Linked DNA regions of Homo sapiens: region 1 is linked to region 2. Evidence: fine-mapped expression QTL. A gene starts in region 2. The other region holds a variant in brackets. All regions are shown on one strand. Distances are between the middles of the regions.

Evidence for each region. PIP is the estimated chance that this variant, and not a neighbour inherited with it, causes the effect.
Region 1: its variant is fine-mapped to the expression of USP9X in whole blood (TOPMed, PIP above 0.99).

Annotation. Positions count from the first base shown.
Region 1 is chrX:41,229,678-41,235,198 of GRCh38, forward strand. USP9X (ubiquitin specific peptidase 9 X-linked) reads left to right here. Exons shown (of 45, transcript NM_001039591.3): 43 at 1-102; 44 at 824-919; 45 at 2,710-5,521. The coding sequence ends at 2,847. Among named protein-coding and RNA genes, the nearest start is that of LINC02601, 43 kb to the right of the region's middle. The variant A/G (reference allele first, on the strand shown) is at 3,011.
Region 2 is chrX:41,083,003-41,088,002 of GRCh38, forward strand. It overlaps USP9X (ubiquitin specific peptidase 9 X-linked), which reads left to right and starts at 2,443. Exons shown (of 45, transcript NM_001039591.3): 1 at 2,443-3,107. RefSeq lists enhancers at 1,394-1,688, 1,438-1,977, 2,516-3,053 and silencers at 1,598-1,667, 2,098-2,477, 3,178-3,637.

The DNA of each region.
Region 1 (5,521 bases), 150 kb after region 2:
CCCCCAGTGCAAAGCAATGAAACGTCCAATGGTTATTTCTTGGAGAGATCACATAGTGCTAGGATGACACTTGCAAAAGCTTGTGAACTCTGTCCAGAGGAGGTAAAAAAAGCCACCAGTGTGCAGCAGATAGAAATGGAAGAGAGCAAAGTAATTCTTTATTTTATAGGCCAGTGTTTATGTATTAATGATATTATTAAAAGATTATGTTGAAGTTTTGGGTTTTGAAAAATGTTTATTCGGCTGGGCATGGTGGCTCACGCCTGTAATCCCAACACTTTGGGAGGCCGAGGCAGGCGGATCACCTGAGGTCAGGAGTTCAAGACCAGCCTGGCCAACAAGGTGAAATCCCATCTCCACTAAAAATAGAAAAATTAGTCGGGCGTGGTGGCAGGCGCCTGTAATCTCAGCTACTTGGGAGGCTGAGGCTGGAGAATGACTTGAACCCAGGAGGCACAGATTGCAGTGAGCGGAGATCGTGCCAGTGGGCTCCAGCTTGGGTGACAAGAGTGAAACTCCATCTCAAAAAAAGAAAAGAAAAGAATGTTTATTCTATGTCATTTTAAGCTAATGAAGGGAGCTTTCTTTTGGAGAAATTTCTGTGAAATTGCCTGAAATGTAGTAGTTCTGAGAGAATGCAAATCAGGTTTTTTGTTTTGTTTTTTTTTTTTTTGTTTTTTCCCCAAGTTCTTTATCTGCAGTAAAAGAAAAGTTGCTAATGGGTCAGTTTTGTAGATTTTTAAAATTTATTTCAAATAGAAAAAGTTAAAAGTAAACTTGAGTTTGCCTACGTAATTTTTTATCTTGAAATATTCAAAATTAGGAGCCAGATGACCAAGATGCTCCAGATGAACATGAGTCGCCTCCACCTGAAGATGCCCCATTGTACCCCCATTCACCTGGATCTCAGTATCAACAGGTAAACAGGAGTCAGTTTATGCTTTTATCCCCTAGAACTGGGTTTTATGCTTAATTTTAGAGGATGGCTCAATTGTTTGTTGTGACTACAAAGTAAGAAGTAGGATTATCTAGACTAGCTTTGGGAGCATGATCCAGAAGAGGGATGGTTTGGAGTGGGGGTCATGGTGTAACATGTTTGAACTTAACCACTGTAGGGTTTTCCTTGTCAAGAAGGTGTCCTTCTTGTGCTAGTAGTTAATAAAACTGTATGAGAATTTATATCAACATAAAATGATCATTGTTTAGTGCAAAGGATTGTGGTGACATTTCCGGTGAGGTAAAATCTTCACCTGGATTCCAAAAACATTATTAAGATATGGCAATGAAGTAAGAAGTCCTTGGTTACTTAGCCACAGGTTTCAGTGATGGTAAAAATCACTGGAAAAAAAAGGATTTGGGTAGATTTCCATAGGTGATTAAAGTAAATAAACTAGTAAATAGCAAAAGAAATGAGATGAAGAAACATTCTAAATGATAACTTTTTCTTTCTGAAACCAAAATGTGACTAAATCAGCTCTTGTGAGGCAGTGGTACTCAAACTTGCACAGGCGTGAGTCTCCCTGGAAGGGTTGCTCCAGCAGAGAGCTAGATGCTACCCTAAAGTGTCTTATTTCATAGGTCTTCAAGGGGCTGGAAAATGTACATTTCTAGCAAGTTCCCAAGTGATGCTGCTGGTGGTCCAGGAACCATACTTGGAGAAACATTTCAGGCATTCTTTCTTACATTTCACTGTGTACATAGAAGCAAACTGAATAGTTAGGAAGTACACATTCAGCGTACTTATTTTCATCTATAGAAAGTAAAGCCTGGCCAGGCGCGGTAGCTCATGCCTGTAATCCCAACACTTTGGAAGGCTGAGGCAGGTGGATCACCTGAGGTCAGGAGTTTGAGACCAGCCTGACCAACATGGAGAAGCCCTGTCTCTACTAAAAATACAAAATTAGCCGGGTATGGTGGTGGCGCATGCCTGTAATCCCAGCTACTCAGGAGGCTGAGGCAAGAGAATCTCTTGAACCCAGGAGGCAGAGGTGGTGGTGAGTCGAGATAGCACCATTGCACTCCAGCCTGGGCAACAAGAGCGAAACTCCCATCTCAAAAAAAAAAAAAAAAAAGTTAAGCCTAAAATCTTGGCTTGGCTGATGGAGCATGTACAGAAAAATGAGAGCACTGTAGGGTTCAGACATTTTAAAAGGTTAAGGAACCAAATCCACAAGGAAGGTTAACTTCCTTTGACCCTGAGAAAGCTCTTATGTTAATCATGCCTGGTTACTTTATCATCTTGAACATTGTTCTGTTTTTAATCAGCATTATTGTGAGTTCAGGGTTACTGCTCCTATATATCTTACATCATGGTTAGTCAATCGGATTTAGCATGTGGAAGAGTCAATAGATGCTCATAGATCATTCTCTGAAAATTTTTTACCAAGAGCAACAGTGGGTTAATCCTTTATTTGCCAGACTTGAGTCTAAATAATTTTTGGCACTAAAAATCACTTTGGCCAAAGATTTATGTGGACCTACACAATCACTGCTCTTATTCAGGGTTTTGGGGTTTGCATTTACACTACGTTTTTCAAGCCTTTTTTTGTTTTTGTTTTTGTTTTTGTTTTGCACTATAGTAGTCCAAGGGTATTTACAGAGTAAGTCCCAAGAATAAGAGTATACATTTCCAGAGACTTCAGACCATGATTTTGAAGTTGTTTTACTATGTGAAAAGTTTTAACATACAGATCTTTTCTCCTTTCCCAGAATAACCATGTGCATGGACAGCCATATACAGGCCCAGCAGCACATCACATGAACAACCCTCAGAGAACTGGCCAACGAGCACAAGAAAATTATGAAGGCAGTGAAGAAGTATCCCCACCTCAAACCAAGGATCAATGAAATGCACATAATTAACTGGTTCCATCAAGACTGTGCACCCAGGCCTTACAGTCCAACCTTTTTCTGTGTCTGGCTAATATTTAAAACTAGAAAAACTATTCCTAATCAACATGGAGTGGAGAGTTTATTCACTGTCTTATCTGCAGAAATTTGCTGTCAATAT[A/G]TAACCCGCCTGCAGTGGAAAGTGTATAGTGTTTTGTAATAAATGGCCTGATGCTAATGTGTAAATGGCAAAGGTGTATATAGTATATTAATGTTGACTGTTAATTCTTAAGCAAGAAACTTTTTTCTTGATGAGACTCACAGATCTACACAAACTACAAAAGTTAATTTTCTTGTTACACCCACTGCACTCTGCAACCAGTGTTGCCTGCCTCATGGCAGTTGGATCAGCTCCTTTACAAAAAAGAAAAAAAAAAAACCAACAGCAACAAAACAGAGCCCATCCATGTCAGCCACACCAATAGTTTCATGTTAATTCTTTGCCACTGGAGTCAATTTTGCTATGAGCAATGTAAGGCTGGTAACCTTTAAATTATTTGGTTGATGTGGAAAATTGGTGATGTAACACTGTTTCTAGATTTTTTTCATTGCCTTTTTATTCTGATATTAGGTTAATCACTTTGAAGCTATAGTTATGCTGTAACATTTAGCATGGCTTCACACCAAGTTAGTGTAGCCAATGAGGAAAAAGTTACCATAATGACAGCAGTTGTCCGAGAAGTGACAGCTGTATTACTCAGAGCTTTTACTTCTTACACCTAGAATATTAAAATATAAAACAAGGGGAGAAATGTGACAGTCTATTTTCAGTTGCACATATGTTCCTTATATATAATGTTTGACAGTTCAATCTCTGGGTGGAATAAAGAACACTTACGTATCAGTAATGGGAATTTTTAAAGATTTAAAACAAATATGCAAAAATTTGCTATGCCAAGATGCTGGAGCATAATATAAGACTGTATTTGGTGTGCTTGTTTTGTTTCTTTGGTAGAGTTTATTAGGTGAATCTTCTAAAACTTTCCTTCTGTTGGATCCCAGTGACGTGGAAGTCATCAGAACCCCACGGTACTTGGAGTACCTCTCTGCACCAAGATAGCTGGCTGATTTTCTGCTCAGTCACAATTTTACTTGAAAGCAAGAATTGTCCTAGCTCCTTTTCCATTATTCCAAAACGTTTAACGTTCAAAGCAGGGTCTCATTAAAAAAGAAACTACTGGTTGATATAATTGAGATATTACAATTTCAGAATAAACATTTGATTAAAAATAAGGAAATCCTCAGTTCATACTGTATTTAAAAGAGAATTGGTAACTTGAATGTGTGTAATTTTTTGGAACCTGTCTAAAAACCAAATACCCCTGCAAACAGATACAGCCCACCCTATTCTATTTAAATATTTTGCTGTTTTATTTTATAGAAATTATTTTGCTGAATTCACAAATAGAATTTGATTTAAGAAGAACTTTTTGTCCTGTGGTGTGTTTTTGGTTTTTTTTTTGGTTACTTTTTTTGTCCTTTTTTTTTTTTTTTAAAAGAGGACTGCATATTAAAATTCATTCTGTGCATAGCATGCCTAGGCATGACACTGATTCAGGATTTCAGTCACATCAAGTTTTTGTGCACAGAAAGATTTGACCTTTGGCCCTCTACTGAAGATTTTGAGAAATCAGGATGTTGACACTGTAAAAGTTTCCTAACATAATCTTGTACTTTTTGTATGTTTTTTATATACATGTATATTTAATGAGCACAAGCTTGGTTGTATTTTTTACAATTCAGTTAATAGGGAAATGTTTTGTCAAAAGGCTACACTTGGAACTGAACAAAGCAGAAACAAAATTGAGCATTGCATTATTTTGTGATTAAAAGGGGCAGGTATTTAAGATAAAGCTTTGGGTATCTTATTTGTAGTACTGTATAGTCAACCTGTGCTTCTAGGTGTTCCTGTAGGACATTTTGACACCGATACTTTGAGTGAAAGTCACACACGGTGTTTGCAATTCCAACTGATTTTTGTTTTGTTTTTATTTTTTTGTTGTTTTCTTCTTTGAGATGGAGTCTTGCTCTGTCACCCAGGCTGGAGTGCAGTGGCACAATCTTGGCTCACTGCAACGTCGCCTCCTGGGTTCAAGCGATTCTTCCGCCTCAGCCTCCCGAGTAGCTGGGATTAGAGGTGCCCACCACCACGCCCAGCTAATTTTTGTATTTTTGTAGAGACAGGGTTTCACCACGTTGGCCAGGCTGGTCTTGAACTCCTGACCTCAGGTGATCTGGCCGCCTCGGCCTCCCAAAGTGCTGGGATTGCAGGTGTGAGCCACCGCGCCTGGCCCCAGTTGATAGTTTTTTTAATTTAAAAGTTCCTCAATTCCAAGCTCTTTAAACGAGTGAAATAGGTTAACTTTATTTGGATGAGTTAGGTGTACCATCTCACCATCTGAGAGGAGATTTATATATTTCCTGCTGCTCCTTAACAAAATATGTAATGTACTTAAAAACTTTAACGACTTCCTAGTTGAGAGAAAACTTGACATATAAAAGGCTGTGAATTTTTCTGCTTGGAGGAAGAGCCCAACCTTGGTTGCTTTGAAGTTACAAGCCCCCTTGTGCCAGGTGAGGGGCTTGTGAGTCATTTTTGTCTCCATTTGAGGAAGAGTGGTATTCGTTGTGA
Region 2 (5,000 bases):
GGTGGGGGGGAAACTCCTTATCTGTATGAATTTTAGCATCATCTTGTCCATTTCTGCAAAAAAAAAAAAAGCCTGCTGGGATTTTGATAGGGATTGCATTGACTCTGTAGATCAATTTGAGGAGTATTGCTATCTTAATACTTTTATTTCAGTCTTGAATGTTTTTCAATGATGTTCTGTAGTTTTCAATGTACAAATCTTGCATTTCTTTTGTTAAATCGATTTTTAACTTTATTGATTTTGATGCTATTGTAAATGGAATTTTAACTTAATTTTCAGATTGTTTATTGCTAGTGTGTAAAACTATAACTGATGTTTAAATATTGATCTTATATCCTGCAGTTTTGCTGAACTTGCTTATTGGCTTTATTTTTTTTATAATGGATTTCCCAAGATTTTCTATATATAAAATCATGTCATGTGAAAGTAGCGATAGTTTAATTGTTCCTTTCTTATCTGGATGCCTTTCATTTCTTTTTCAGGCTAGAACTGCAAGTACAATATTGAACAGAATTGGTGAGAGGGGACATCCTTGTTAAAGGTGCACTTTTGATAGGGTTAAAAGACCAGTGTTCAACACTTTCCAATCCTGACTTCGGGCAAATCATTTACCCTTTCTGTTTCCTTATCTAAAATAGAAAATAACAGCCTATAGTGTACGCGGGTGGTCGTGTCTGCTTTTTAGAAGCCCATGAGCTAGTGGGGAAGCAAATGATTCATGGAAATAATTATAAAAACAAGGTAACATATGCTAAGAGTTATTAGGGCTATGAATGATACATCTTGGATACCCTATTAGATAATTTGTGGTGAAAAATTTGTAAACAATCTTGTGCTAAATAGAGAAATGGTTTAAAAATTTAAGATACCAATAACTTGCTTTCACTGTCACCTACATTAGTTTGGTTCCATTTTTAACAGTCTTTTATTACAAACTGATATAATCATAGCATAACTAAATTCAACCCTCTTCTCTATAAAATAGATCTCGGTTTGTAGGGTTTTACTATGATTTTGCATGCCATTTGATGTCCACAGGTATTTTTTAAGTCAAAAGGAAATCTGTAAATTAGGAACTGTTAATTTCCTCTTCATTTGGGCATCCTAGGTAGACTGTACAGATTTGTTCCAAGCACCCCATTAATTTGAGATTAGCCTAAGTTTTTCCTATGCCCGCACTTTGGAATATAAACATGTAGAAAATAGTCCATGACACAGCGGATGGGTTCATAAGTTTCTTCCGGGTCCTAACACCGAATTGTGCTGATGATCTGGCAATGGAGGCTAATCTTGCCACATCAAGTACGGCCTATTCGCTAAGCCGTCTGGGGCACTTTATAATTTTTTTCTTTGCTGGTCTGTTTGAAGGGCTCCTATGGCCAAAAAGGTGGTCAGTCCCGTCAGCTAGGCTGTGAGGACGCCTAAACGCTTTGAGGACGCCTAAACGCTTTGAGGTAGTGATGATGCATGATCGTGTGAAAGAGTTTCTCAGAGCACCTCCCTCGCGGGGTGGGGAAAAGGACCTCACTCCCCACGCCCCCTCCTTCCGCTGCGGGAGATAGCCACACCTTCCCCCTATCGGCGCCAAGCAGGTGGCCAGGCCCTCGGGACCTCGCGCCCCCGCAGCCAGTGGCCCGGCCAGCTCGTGCGTCACGTGACGCGGGTCAGCTGCACCGCCGGGACCTCCAGGCACCGCGGCGGCGACCGCCCAGCGCGTGGTCTCGAGATCTCATCTTTCCGCGCCCCTCCCCCCACGGTCCCGGAAAAGGGGGAGGCCGGTGACGTCATCATCCGGGTTCTTGTCGGCGGGGCTACGGTTCACAATGGAACAAAAACAAGCGGCCCGAGTCAAACTATGAGCGACGCGGCTGCGGCTCACGCGATTAACCCTGTCGTGGCCACACACCCCGCCAGTCCCTGCCGCCCAGCCCCTCCCGAGTGGTGTGCCAGATCTTTTCGGGCCTCCCTTCCCCAACTTCGGTCCTAGAGCCACCTCTGCCCTCGTCCCGCTCCTGAGCCGAGGGGCATGGAACAGGATTTCTGGCCGTAGCACGACCCTGAAGGGGCCAGCCGGAAGAAACAGTACTGCGCGAACAATCTTTACCGCATTGTCTTCCCCTCCCCCACCCTAGCTCTCCGGGTTCCCGGCGGCTCGCGCCGAAGCCCGGCCCCCTCAGCGGCTCGCGCTGCTCTCCCAGCCTTGACGGCCCGGGGTGGAGGGAGAGAAGAGGGGGCAGCTGAGCGGGAGGGGGCTGGGCAGGAGCAGGGGGAGGGCCGAAAGGAGGGGCCTGAAAGGGGCGGGCCCTGACGGGGGCGGAGAACTTCGGGTCTTGGGCGGCTCTGGGGCTAGTGGGAGTCTGCGCCGCCGCCGCCGCCGCCACCGCTGCTGCCGCCGTCGCCGCTACCGCCGCCGCCACTGGCCGAGCGGTTTTTTTTTTTTTGGTTTGCCGGATCCGCCATATTGACGAGGACGGGCATCCGCGGCTGCGGACGCTAGTCTCCGCCGCCGCCGGAGCCGCAACCTCTCCGCACCCGGCCCCGTCAGGGCCTCTGTCGCGCCTAGCCCCTCCCCGCCTTACACAGCTCCCGGGCCTCGCGGGAGCCCGCCGCCGCCGCCTCTCTCTCACGGGAGGCGGCCGCCTTAGCGCCCGGTGCTTGGGTCGGCGCCGGGAGCGAGGAGCGAGCTACTTCAAAGCCACCAGGCCTGGAGCGGGGACAGAGGCGGCGACTAGGGGAAGGTGAAGCCGTCGCTGCAGGAGGAGGAGCAGGAGGAGGTGACGCAGGAGAAACGCACCGCCCGGAGCCCGTCTGAGCTCAGCGAGAGCCCCAGCCTGAGGGGAGAAGGGGAAGAGGGCCGTCGCCGGCCAAGGAGGAGGAGGAGGCGGGCGCGGCGAGGAGCGAGTTCCGGCGCCGGTGTGCAGCCTTTTGGTTGAGACGCCCGCAGCCCCGAGCCCGGCCGCCGCAGCCTTTCGATACACTTTGTTGCCGGTCACCCCCGGGCCTGGGATGCACCCAGGGTAGGTCTCGTCCCGGGACCGAGCCCCACCGTCGCCTGGTGCCTCCCGCCTCCGTGTGCCCTGGTTGTGAGAAGACGTCTGTGTCGTGCGGTGAGTGGCCAGCTGCACTGGGGCGACGCTCTTTCCCGGGGCCAACAGCTGGATGTGGGTGAGGGGAGGAGGGCGAGGGGGGTGTGCGTGTGTGCGAGCCTCTTCCCTCGGCGGCTGCCGGCCAGGCTGGGGCTTCCCCGTTCCCCCTCCTCCGGCCCGGGCTGGGCGGGCGCGCGGGCCCGTGTTGTGTGTGGAGCCGGTGTCCCGAGAGCGTGTCTGTGTGTTTTGGACTGTAAGGGAAAATGGCTGACGGCTCCGTCCCTCCCCCTCCTCCCCCTTCCCGTCCTGTCTGGGGCCGAGTAGGAGGATGGAGTCTCCGGGCGTGGCGGGCAGCCCCCCCGCCGTCCGCACCCGGGGGCCGGGTCGGTTTGGGGGCTGGCCGCCCCCCGCCCGGCGGCCGCTTTCCTACCCGGTCTGGTTCCACTTGACACCAAACGCCATTACTGAGGTGGAGTGATTTGGAGCTGGGGAGCTAGGCCTCGGCTACGCCTGGCTATCAGGCCTGACGACTTGTCCGCCTCCCCCCACCCTCCCGCGATAACCCGCAGTTTCTCCCCGGCCCTGGGCTCCTGGAGTGGGAGCTGGGTTATCGGCCTCCTACACCTCCTTCGCCCCGCTTTATTTGCAGAGGGCCAAAGCCGTGAAAGGGGTTTTTGAATGCAGAAATCGCTTCCAAGCTAGCTTGGACCTATTACCTTTCTATTTTTAACTGTTTCTGCAAATATTAGCATGTGCGAGTTTGGTAGTGATCAGGTCTTCAGATTCTTGTGACGTGAGGCTTAGGGTTGGATAAATGGCTGATTTTTCATTCATTGTGAAATAAGTTAAAGAGTTATACAGCAGGTGTGTAGATGGCTTCTTAAATTATTTGTGTGGATTTCTGTAGCGACTAGAACTTACACGAGAATTTGCAAAATTTCTAGTAGAACCTGCTTAAATTAAGCATGTTATTTTTTGGAAGTTCCATAGTTACAACGTTAATTGAATTTACACGGTGCAGTTTACAGGTGTATATAATTGCTTCAGATTGTCTTTTAGTTTAAATAAGCAAGTTGTAGGTATAGATTAAATATTCATGCTTTATTTTTCGGGGAGAGAAGTATGTGTACTGTTCTTTTACCTGGAAACCCATGAGTCCCTAAATCTACTTAACGTTTGTATACTTTCACTTTTGAGGAAGAATGATTTGGGGTGCATTGATTAGGAAACTTTCCAGCAGGTACTTAACCCTCTCGGAGCTGATTACCCTTAGGTAAGGACTCCTTAACCATGACTAGCTTGGCTGGTTAGTACACTTGAACTCAAAAATAGAGACTATAAACTCTCCTTTAGATCTCGCTCGTCTTCTAATTCGCTGGGCTGCCATTTTGGTTTCAGCAAATACCTTCAAATTCTTGAAGAATTATGTATTAAATATAAAAAAGTGTCAACATTCGTTTTCTCAATTTTTAAACTCATGTGCTGTGTCATACATCTAACTTTAACCCTTTAAACTTTATCGTTCCAGCTTTTGGGTGGAGTGAAAGCTTGAAGTATTTGGAATTGGTGTTCCACAGGTGAACTCAAAATGTCTTTGGTATTTTACTGTTTTATTTTCTCTAATTTAAAAATAGGACGTTTGGACTATATGAATTCTCTCTACCCCTTTTCTTGTATTTTTTTGCATGAACATGTAACTTGTAATTCTGGTTATCAGCGTTCTCATGTTTCTTTTGTTTGCTGACCTTGGTAGTTTCTGAGAATTTCTGGAGGGAGTAATAGCACCAGCAACAGTACATGTGAGAATCTTAAGTTACTTCAGGAAGGAACATTGAAGGGCAGATTTTACCTTTCACCAGGTTATTGGGGTCTCTAGTTTGGTGTTCCATAGTCCATAGTTCTCATGGTTTTGTT